3 linked regions of the Homo sapiens genome follow. The protein of the gene in region 3 purifies or fractionates together with the protein of the main gene of each other region. This does not show direct contact. Each region holds a gene or a part of one and is shown on either strand. Other genes may lie near its edges.

Region 1 (3,500 bases), on a different chromosome or scaffold from region 3:
CTCAGTATTCCCAGCAGTCTGCATAGGGTCTGGTACGCGGTGATGTCAGAGAGCGAGTATTGTGAGAGTAAATCCTATGACCGTGAGAATGGTTGCTGCCCACTTACGGAGTCTGGATGCTGTGTTTGCTCCATTGTGGAAAGACCAACTAGTGGTCTTCCTGTGGAGGAACAATAACTCCCTTAAAAGAATTTAGCCATTTTGAATTGGAGCCTCAGAAAGGGGCTCAGATGATTCATTGTGCTGTTTTCTCTTCACTGTACCCCCTGGAACCTGGCTGTACCTAGCCCATATAAGAAGCAGTCAGAGCCCTGTCATGCCTCTAGTTTGAGCAAAGTATCTTTTGTGACTTTGCTAAGAGTTGTTATTAGCAGCAACAATGAAGAGGATTATGTGAAGTCACGTGACTACTTGGCACACTTTAGCCCTGAGTGGCCTCTCCTTCTGACAGGGCGTCCTGGTGCAGGGGCTGCCTGGGTGAAGCCCCACATGCTATTATGCTTCTTTCTTATGTGGAGGAGTTGCCCAAAGCAGGTCCAGGGGAGAGCAGATTGAATGTTAATGACTTGGTATTAACCACTTTTTCCTCCCTCTCCTTTCTTGGCAGGACTGCTGTTTATGCTCATTACGAGGAGGGGCCCTGCAGAGAGCAAATGATGACAGGTAAGTTTCCTGAGCAGTGCCTTGGAATGCACAGGCTCAGTTCCGAAGCACACAGTGTCTTTGTGAGGGTACTAGCTGTTCTTCTGAATGACTGATGAGGATTTGGGAAGCACATCGTGTGGAGCAGGAATAGCATCTCCAAGACTCATTTTAAAAATGGAATGCTAAGGGAGCCAAGCAGTCCCAGACTTTCCAACTCCAGCTGCTCCTCTGCAGCAGAGATGTCAGTGACATCCTCCTTTGGAGAAGCTAAGAATGGACTCATGAGAATATGAAGACGAAGATGATGCGCAGGGACTGTGTGGGCTGGAGTGAGGACATTCACCTTGTCACAGCTGGGGCTGGTATGCAGAGGCGGCCACAGGCTAGCAAGCACTTCTCCACATGGCAAACTCCCTGGCTCAGACCTGCTGTTTGGAATGAGGCGAGTGTGCTCAAGGAGGACACTGAGGAGAGCTCAGACAGGCCCACCCACTATGGAACCGAATCTGCTGAATTTTCTGGGCTTCTCAGCTGTTGGGCAGCTCGTTTTCATGGAGTGAATCTTTGTGCTTAGGCTTGTGTTTGGTTGCTCTGAGGTGGAAACGTAAGATGAATGAGGTTTCTGACCTGGAAGAGCTAGCTGTCTAGGGCATGGTGCGTGCAGGTCAGTGCTGAGTATCCTGCTTCCAAGTAGAATCCCGTGGCAACTTGCAGCATATGTTCAGTCCAGCCGCCTGCCCTCAAGAGTCCCAGTTATGCTGTCCCTGAGAGATAGCTACTCTGCCTGCTGCTTCTGCTCCTTCAAAGGCACTTGCTGCCATTATTTGAGGTCACTGGGTTCCTCACAGTCACAGGATAGTGCTGGGAACATTCTTTCTTATTTGGAGTGGAAATGGCTGTGCTTGAATCTCTCACCTTTACCTCTGAATGCCTGTTCTGCCCTCCAGGGCCACACAGAACAAATCTGTTCCCACTCTAAAAAGACAGCCCCACTAGAACTGCAGAGAGCTTCCATGGAGCCCCAGTGTTGTCTGGTGTAGGTTTTCACGTAGCATGGTTTTAAGAGTTGTCACCATTTTCGTTCTTCTCCTCTTGATGCATGCTGGTTTCCCAAAATGTCCAAAACTTACTTTAATTCTTAAGGATGTCCGTTGAATAGACCTCTCAGAGTAAGTGGGGCTTGGGTCAGACCTTAAAGATTAAAGAGTGAGTCAGCTATGGAAAAAGGGAGCAGAAGGGAGAGGTCATTTCAGCCTGGGGGAGAGGTTTGGGCAGAGGCCGAGAGAGAGCTGTGATTACTGGCAGATTAGGGCACAGCCGGGGACGTTTTCAGGAAGCACTTGGGTCCTATGGTAAAGAGGTCTGCATAGAGCTTTCCAGTTTATTCTCACTCCCTGAGACCTGCCACACACCATTAGCCTGCAGCTCTGTTCATTTTTCAACAGAGTGGTGTAAGAAGCATGATCCGGTGCTAACCTAGGGCAGTGGGCAGTGGCCTAGGTGGGCAGTGGGGGTGGCACTGCTTCCACATACTCAGAGGAGAGACGGTTCTGGTTCTCACCTTCCTGGGTCCCAGGCATGTGCTGGTGGAAGTCAGTGGTCACCCAGGTGAGGGAGGAAGCGCTGTCAGCAGGCCCAAAAGAGAAGGCCACAGAGCCTTGGGCCCAGAGGTGACTGAGGGAGCCTTTGCCTTTTGGCAGGTGGGTCCACGTTTCATGTGCTGTGGCAATTCTGGAAGCAAGGTTTGTCAACATTGCAGAAAGAAGTCCGGTGGATGTGAGCAAAATCCCCCTGCCCCGCTTCAAACTGGTAAGGGCTTGTAGACTCTACATAATTTCCCGACTTACAAGTTTCTGGGTAGAAGAGAACAGGGACCTCCTGTACCCCTTGGTTTTGGTTAGAGTTTGTGATTCTCACTCTGTGGTTAGATTCCTTAGTGGAGGCCAGGTGTGGTGGCTCACACCTGTAATCCCAGCCCTTTGTGGGGCCGAGGTGGGTGAACCACTTGAGGTCAGGAGTTCAAGACCAGCCTGGGCAACATGGTGAAACCCCGACTCTACTAAAAATATAAAATTAGCTGGGAGTGGTGGTGCGCACCTATAATCCCAGCTCCTCGGGAATCTGAGGCAGGAGAATCACTTGAACCCGGGAGGCGGAGGTTGCAGTGAGCCGATATTGTGTCACTGCACTCCAGCCTGGGTGACAGAGCAAGACTCCGTCTCAAAAAAAAAAAAAAAAAAATTTCCTTGGCAGATAAAGTTGTAACCAGACCTGGATTAGAGCAGGCTGGTGTGTCCTTGTATTTTGGGAAGGGGCTGGCTCTTGCTTGCTTGGCTTTGCATTTGGGAGGGGAACAACAGAGGAAGCTGCAGTGCCAGTTCCTGCAATCACTGGTTTTCTTCCCCTGTGCTACAGAAATGTATCTTCTGTAAGAAGCGGAGGAAAAGAACTGCTGGCTGCTGTGTGCAGTGTTCTCACGGCCGCTGCCCAACTGCCTTCCATGTGAGCTGCGCCCAGGCTGCCGGTGTGATGATGCAGCCTGACGACTGGCCTTTTGTGGTCTTCATTACCTGCTTTCGGCACAAGATTCCTAATTTGGAGGTGAGAGAGGGTGTCATTCTAGAATCCTCTTGACAGTTTTCATGGTCATTTTCTCTGCATGTTTTCCATTTGTTGTATCAGCAACTATTTCCTCAAGCATTCTGCATTATGAAGAGTGCTAATGAGTTAAGAGATTGAGAGGTGGCCCCTGTCCATCTCCACTCCCTGCCTTGTACTCCATAAGCCAGTGACACCAAACTGCTTGTAGTTGATTCGTTTTGATTATCTCTTTACTTGTCTGCCTCTCCATCAGA
Region 2 (4,067 bases), on a different chromosome or scaffold from region 3:
CATTGAGGGTGGGCCTTAATCCAACACGACTGGTGTCCTCATAAGAAGAGGCAATTTAGATATGGAAAGGTACACAGGAGGATCATGTAAAGACACAGGGAGAAGATGGTCCCACAGTGGCTCCACAAGAAACCAACTCTGCTGACTTGTGGCCTCCAGAATTGTGAGAAAACAAATTTCCATTTAAGCCACCCAATCTGTGGTAGTTTTGTTCCTGGACCAAACTGAGGGTCAGGCTGCTATTTCTTGCTGCCAATAATGAGATGTCGATGAACTGGGGATGAAGAAAGTTTTTATTTCTGTAACCAGTTACAGGCAGAAGGCCTGGAAATTATCACCAGACCAACTCAAAATTACAAAGTTTTTCAGAGTTTATATACCTTATAAGCTATATGTCTACATGTAAGTGTACATTCCTCTGAAGATATAAATGTTTCTTTATCAGCATTTGGAACATGCCAGGCAAATAGTAAACACTCAATATCATCTACCATCAGCCTCAGCCTGGGGCCTCACACCCATCTTCTTTTATCTAAAATTCTGAATTAGCTATGAATATTCTCATTTTACGAATGAGGAAAGAAATGTGATCTGAGCTAATGCCTTGTGTCAACAGGTATATTACACTAAGATGGAGAATGATATACTGAATCTGTGTTTGCCTTTAACGTGTGTTTAACTTCGAGAAAAAAGCCAAGGCTGGGCGGTCGCAGTCACGCTGCATCCGGCGACAGGGGGCGGTGTGTCCTGCGAAAAGTCAAAACGCCGGAAGCTGCCCTTAGTGTTTTTCAGCCTCTTGGTCTTAGGGAAAGTGAGGCCGTGTTTTACATCCAACATATTATTATTCTGATAATATGTGACTTGGCGCCACGCGCACTCTGCACTTAAACACGCACTTAAGGGATAAACACATACGACTGAAAAAGAGTTTCGCCCTTGATAGGCAGTGTATGGGGTGCGCAGCTGCAATCTGCAAACCCTTGCAGGGCGCGGGGTTTCGTACACCCGCTCAAGGACGCAAAGAACCTCCATTCTCTGCCATACAAAGCACTCCTGGCCCAGAGAGCAGGAAAGAGCATCAGCTAGGCCCAGCTAGGCGGCGCCCTCGGCCGGACTCTGAAGGTCAGGGCCGCTGGGCGTCCACGCCGCCTGGGTCCCAGTCCCCGTCCCATCCCCCGGCGGCCTAGGCAGCGTTTCCAGCCCCGAGAACTTTGTTCTTTTTGTCCCGCCCCCTGCGCCCAACCGCCTGCGCCGCCTTCCGGCCCGAGTTCTGGAGACTCAACATGAAGCTACCGGCCAGGGTTTTCTTTACTCTGGGGTCCCGGCTGCCCTGTGGCCTCGCTCCTCGGAGGGTAAGGCGGCCGGGGGCGCGGGGAGCGAGGACAGGGCGTCTCGACGCGCAAAGAGAGAGGACAGGGCGTCACGGGGGCTCGGGGAGCGAGGACAAGGCATCCTGGGGCGCAAAGAGAGAGGACAGGGCGTCCCGGGGGTTCGGGGAGCGAGGACAGGGCATCCCGAGGCGCAGAGAGAGAGAGGACAGGGCGTCCCGGGGCCTCGGGGAGCGAGGACAGGGTGTCCCGGGGCTCAAAGAGAGAGGACAGGGCGTTCTGGAGCGCTAAGAGAGCACAGAGCAACCCGGGGAGCGAGAGAGAGGACAGGACGTCTCGGGGCGCAAGAGAAAGGGCAGGAAGTCTTGGGGCACAAAGAGAGGACCCGGCGTCCCTGGGGCTCAGGGAGCTAGGACAGGGCGTTTTGGGGCGCAGAGAGAGAGGACCACCAGGTCCCGGAGCGAAGGGCAACGCCGGGAGTGAGCACCGGGGCCCGGGTCGTATTCCACTGTCAGATGAAGCCCTGATGTGTGTAGGGGAATAGGGAAGAGACGTGATTTTCGAAGTTTTCACAGTTCTGCAAGTTTCCAACTTGTGTGTAAATAGGTAGAAAGAGGTAGGGAAGGATACGGCGCCCGTCCACCCCTTAAGGAGTGAGAGGGGATCAGGCCGAGCGAGCACTGACCTTTGACGTCCTTTGTTGTGAGGAAAGTCCATCTATGTGTTAGTTATGGAATTAAACACTAATACAAACAAATTATCATAAAAATGAAACAAAAACAAAACCCCAGCTGTTTATAGACTCCCCTTCCCAGATGTATAGCTGGGAGAGGTCCGTCTCACACTGGCTTCCCCCTCTCTCTGGCCCACACTCCTGTCACCATCTCCATTGCACCCATAGTGGAAATAGCTAGGAAGTGAAAACAGCTAGGAAGAAGAAAGAGAAACAAAAACAAAAAGAAGCAATAATATCCAAGACAAGCCCTCCCCACATCTAAATTACAAAATTGTTATAAGTAAACTAAAAAGCACATTTTCTTTAGCCAGGTAGAAAAATTAATATGTCAACTGTGAAAAAACTTCTTTTGATTTGATAGAATAGACAGCCATGGTGTTGTTTTTCAAAAAATATGGGCAGCAGTAGTTCCAAATAGGAATACAAAGAATTAGTATGGTGGTTCCCTCAAGTAAGGTATCTTTCTTTTAAAAAGTGAGATTTGTTCAGGGTTAGGGTTTTGCTGATTTTTTTTCTCTCCCTGTGAAAACTGGGTTATAGATCATTATAAAGGAAGCCCATATTTTCTGATACTTTTCAGAGACATTTCTCATTTGAAATCTACAACAGCTCTGTGATGTCTTCAGAGATTTCATTTTTTAACACACATCATTAGGATTGTAGCAATAAGGTCATACAGACCTTATCCAAGCTCTTCTGACACCATTAGACAATACAGTTTGAGAAGGAGAAAATGAACTCATTTAAAAATTAATTGTAATCTGACAATTTTGAAATTCCTTTGCTGAAGAAAAATATGGAAGTTTTGAGGTTCAGGGTTGGGAGGCAAGAGAGGTACCTGTTAGTGTGGTTTGTCCCCTTCCTAGCACATGTAGCCTCAAGTTTGAATTCCTGGGAGAAGAAAAGTCTTTACATCTGTGATGTGGGAGGTTGTTCCAGGGAACATCATGTTTTTGTGGGCAAATACAAGTTGTTATAATTAAAACCCCTAATTTGAATATTTTTGTTACCAAGAACCAAGGCAAATGTTTAATTTGTTATAAAACCTGTTTGTGAAGTGCTGTGTTAAATTGTGCTGCTGGCTAATAGGCCTCATTTCAATTTAATAAATATTTATTGAGGACTGGCTTTATGTCTGGCCCTGTGCTATGCCCTGGGACTCAAAATTTAAAAAATACGAGCCCTGCTCTCAACTGTTCTCAAGTTGCTCTCAGTTCTATTGAGGAAAACATTCAGTCATTCAGTTGTTTATGAGGAAACACTAATTAATTAAGTACCTATTAAGTATTGGGCATTCTTTGGCAATTTGTGGTTGAAAGACATTCCTGCCTTCAATGTACTATAGTCTCATATATGTATTTTAAGCCACAAATAATAACCAATGAGTAGGCCTTGAAATCAATTTAGTGGAGCAAAACAGCACTTTGGGAGGCTGAGGCGGGTGGATCATTAGATCAAGAGATCAAGACTATCCTGGCCAACATGGTGAAACCCTGTCTCTAGTAAAAATACAAAAATTACTGGGTGTGGTTTCACACGCCTGTAGTCCCAGCTACTTGGGAGGCTGAGGCAGGAGAATCGCTTTAACCTGGGAGGCAGAGGTTGCAGTGAGCTGAGGTCGCGCCACTGTAGTCCAACCTGGCGATAGAGTGAGTGAGACTCCATCTCAAAAACAAAAAAATGGAATAGAATAGGATATATCTAAATTCATCTCATGTAGTAAGGTTGTTCATTTTGTGAAACTTTAAAAAAAAAATTTACCATTCTTCCTTTTTTGATTCATTCTTTGATTACTATCATGCACACTGCCATGTTTCTTTTCCTTTTGTTTTTATCAAGAGTAATAACTATCCAACCTGATCAACATGGTGAAACCCTGTCTCTACTGAAAATATAAAAATTAGCCGGGCGTGGTGGCGCGTGCCTGTAATCCCAGCTACTCAGGAGGCTGAGGCAGGAGCTACTCAGGAGGCTGAGGCAGGAGAATCACTTGAACCTAGGAG
Region 3 (3,500 bases):
AGACTGTGACTGCATGCCCTGCAGTGTACTAAATGCTTTATGTGTATTAACTGAGGTGATTTTCATAACAACTCTTTGGGTAGGTACATTTTCAGAGGAGAAAGCTGAGACACAGATTTGCCCAAGGTCACATAGTAAATAAGAACCGTAGCCAGGATTTGAACCCAGACAGTCTAGTTCTTGATGACCATGCTGCCCCTCCTCTCAAGGCCAGGATCCTGAGCACCTGCTTGACACATATCCGGGGCACCCCAGGAACTGTGCTAGCCACTGAAATGCAGTCCAAACACAAACAGGTGCAAGCCCTGCCCTCACAGCATTTCCAGCTCAGTAAGAAGCAGACATGAATCAAATAGTCACACGGACTTATAAATGCCAAGCTGTGTAAGTGCTAGAAGGGAAAAGTACCAGGTACCCTGGGCCCCTGCCTCTGCCTCAGCACCCCAGGAAGGCTTCTCTGAGGAAGTGACATTTCAGATGAAGATGAAAAATTAGCAGGGAAGAGGAAGGAAAAGGCATTGTAAGCAGAGGGAAAAGGTGCAGGAGCAGGAAGAAGCATGGAACTGAAAACGGCCAGTATGGCTAAGCTCAGAGAGAAAGGAGAGCCCACCAGCCTATTAGAGTATCCCAGAAAGCTACAGTGAGTGGAACAGGGGCCCACGCTGGCTGGAGGGGCAAGAAGGATGAGGGAAGACGGGCACCTATGTTGAGCCTTAAGGCATAGGCAAGATTTCACTGAGGCAGAGGTGGGCCAAGGGGAGGGAACAGAAGCAAAGGTATGGGATGAGGCAGAGTCACCAGGAGTGGAAGATGGGTACTCATGTGCCCAGGTGGATGCAGGAGGAGAAGCTCAACCCTATCCTCACTTAGCCTTTGCCATTGGTGAGGCCGGAGGGAAAGCAGCGTTGACAGTGTCAGTGTGTGTGAGTGTGTGTGTGTGCACGCACTTGCCAGCACATGCTGAGGTGCAGTTTGAAAGATGTGTAGAGGGGAAGAAGAAGCAAGCTTGCAGAGTTGAGCTTTCCTGTGGCTGAGCATCCACAGGGAGGGTAACTAGAATGTTGGGGGTGGTATTTTGGGTGGAGAGTGAGGGTGAGGATGTGATATTGGTGGGTCTGTTCTCCATAGAATCATGTGATTGCAGTGTCACCATCGAGTTCTTTCCAAAGTGCTCATATTACCTCTTTGTATTTGCTCTATCTGATGAAAAACTTACCATCTGTACACCATTGCAGAACACATAGAGCCATAACTTCTGTTTCACCATTTGAAGAGGTGATTCTTTATTCTTGACAGTTCTGTCCCCTTTCTGACAGCTGTCATGTTTCCAGCCCTTTGGAAACTGAGAGGTGCACATGATCTCCTGTCCTCTCCGTCCCCCGGTGCTATGCTTATGGTGAAGCATAAGCTGAGCCTGGTTTGAGAGGATCTTGGCAGGAAAGGCTTTGGGGCCTCAGAGCTCTGTAATTCCACCTTCTTAAGTGGGTGGATGTCATTTAATCCTGGCCCAAGTGTGGCTGGCACAGTTCAGCTTCTTGAAGAAAGATGGCAGCACATCACACAGGTGTTAGAAATGATACAGTCCATGGGCCTTCACTTGAGCTGGCTCCGTCACAGCAGCCCTCTGAAGTGGGTGGAATTCAAGTGAAAAAACCCAGCCTTGGGGAGACAGAAGGACTTTCCCACATTCCCACAGCTAATAAGTGGTAAGAGAGTCATCATTGCTTCCACTCTACATCCCGTGGTACCTAATAGACACTTAATGGACCTTGTATGAATGAATCGATGAATGGTCTAGAGTTGGTGTCATGAGTAAAACTAATTTGGGCTGGCAATGAAATTGTTGACATGTTGTGTGTGGGTGTGTGGGTGTGTGTCCCCTTCCCATCCTCTCCTCCGAGTTAGGATCATAATGGACTCCTGCTGGTCACCAGGTCCCGCCATGACTGTTTTGAAAATGTCTGCCAGCTCATCTCTTTTTCTCCATCCTCACTGTCATCTTGGTTCATGCTCTTGTCGAGTCTCATCATGACCAGGATGACATTCTTTTAAGTGGCTCTTCTGCTTCCAGTCTTGTCTGCTTTTGTCTGTCCCCACAATGCCACTGGAAGTAACTTCCTAAACCAATTTGGATTACATGAGTGTTCCACTTAAATACTTTCCCAGCTCCCTGTCACCTGCCAAATACAGTCCAAATTCCTAAGACATTCATTTCAAAGTGTTATAATTAATTGCCTCCCTCCCCAAATGGACTGTGAATTGCCCAAAGACACAACCATATCTAAGTCATGGTTGTCTTTTCAATACCTGGTATGGTATGAGGCACAGGATAGTTGCTGACAAACATTTGTTAGCTAATTATCATGTGCTGGGGGAGTTGGAGGGAGATTGAACCAATAAAGGGAAATTTGGGTACTTCTGAATGTGCCCTCTGATGAGGGACTGCCTGTGTCCCTCCTCAGAGGCTGTCCCAAGAGAAGCAGACCTCAGATTCTGACAGCGTGGGTGTGGGTGACAACTGTTCTACCCTTGGCCGCCGGGAGACCTGTGATCACGGTAGGAGCCTCTGGGGGCTCAGGCTGGGGAATGCTGGAACTGGGCCGGGCCTTGCCCATGGGCACACAGCGGCAGAGCAGGTTCTGACCATTCTGTAGACCTGGGTAAGGTGACCTGGCCTGCCATCCCTGGAGCTGCAGGCCCATCCTGTATGCAGGCTGAAAAGGCCACAAGGAAGACTAAGGATGGGTGGGACTCAGGGCTCCCTCCACTCCCCTGACCCATTTCCCCAACAGGCAAAGGGAAGAAGAGCAGCCTGGCAGAACTGAAGGGCTCAATGAGCAGGGCTGCGGGCCGCAAGATCACCCGTATCATTGGCTTCTCCAAGAAGAAGACACTGGCCGATGACCTGCAGACGTCCTCCACCGAGGAGGAGGTTCCCTGCTGTGGTGGGTCCAGGGCACGGGGAGGAAGGGTGCTCAGGTCCTGTGTGCGCGGGCTTTGGGGGCTGAGGCCAGGAGACCTCATGCCTCGTCCACCTCACCCCCAGGGCAGGGGAGGGAATCCAAGCCTACTGGGAGGCTAAGCCCCACTCCATTAACACTCTAGGCCTTCCCATCACTTTCCTTCCCAGAGGCCCTGACACTCAACGAAAGGAAAAGCCAGCTGACCACTGTATTTCTATGCTCCCTGTGACCGTAGCCCAAATCACTGCCCATCCCTGGGCCTCAGTTTCTCAGTTTCCTCCACGATAACAAGACAGGGGTATCTTATTTTCCAGCATAGAACGTGCCAGGTTTATAAGTAACAACCCATATTATAGGGAAATTTATTGGAGAAAAATATTTAGGTACTTTTTATTAAAAATGCATTCAATGTGAATTAAAGGTGATTTGAAGGTGAAAACATTATTTTGCTCATGTAAATGTAGCGTTCCATGTACTGGAATCCAGTTTTTAAAAATCGTATATTTTGGATATGCAGTAATATTCTAACCCTGAAAA

Evidence for each region.
Region 1: the proteins of AFAP1L1 (region 3) and KDM4A purify together in Homo sapiens (affinity purification with mass spectrometry; one large-scale study listed by BioGRID and IntAct). This does not show direct contact.
Region 2: the proteins of AFAP1L1 (region 3) and DECR1 purify together in Homo sapiens (affinity purification with mass spectrometry; one large-scale study listed by BioGRID and IntAct). This does not show direct contact.

The regions. Positions count from the first base shown.
Region 1 is NC_000001.11:43,691,649-43,695,148, forward strand, and holds part of KDM4A (lysine-specific demethylase 4A), read left to right. Parts: intron 1-607; coding exon 608-663; intron 664-2,345; coding exon 2,346-2,454; intron 2,455-3,060; coding exon 3,061-3,246; intron 3,247-3,500. UniProt on the Homo sapiens protein: Histone demethylase that specifically demethylates 'Lys-9' and 'Lys-36' residues of histone H3, thereby playing a central role in histone code. Does not demethylate histone H3 'Lys-4', H3 'Lys-27' nor H4 'Lys-20'.
Region 2 is NC_000008.11:90,000,210-90,004,276, forward strand, and holds the start of DECR1 (2,4-dienoyl-CoA reductase [(3E)-enoyl-CoA-producing], mitochondrial isoform 1 precursor), read left to right. Parts: upstream 1-1,267; 5' UTR 1,268-1,283; coding exon 1,284-1,352; exon of another isoform or gene 1,353-4,067. UniProt on the Homo sapiens protein: Auxiliary enzyme of beta-oxidation. It participates in the metabolism of unsaturated fatty enoyl-CoA esters having double bonds in both even- and odd-numbered positions in mitochondria.
Region 3 is NC_000005.10:149,313,359-149,316,858, forward strand, and holds part of AFAP1L1 (actin filament-associated protein 1-like 1), read left to right. Parts: intron 1-2,462; coding exon 2,463-2,556; intron 2,557-2,792; coding exon 2,793-2,945; intron 2,946-3,500. UniProt on the Homo sapiens protein: May be involved in podosome and invadosome formation.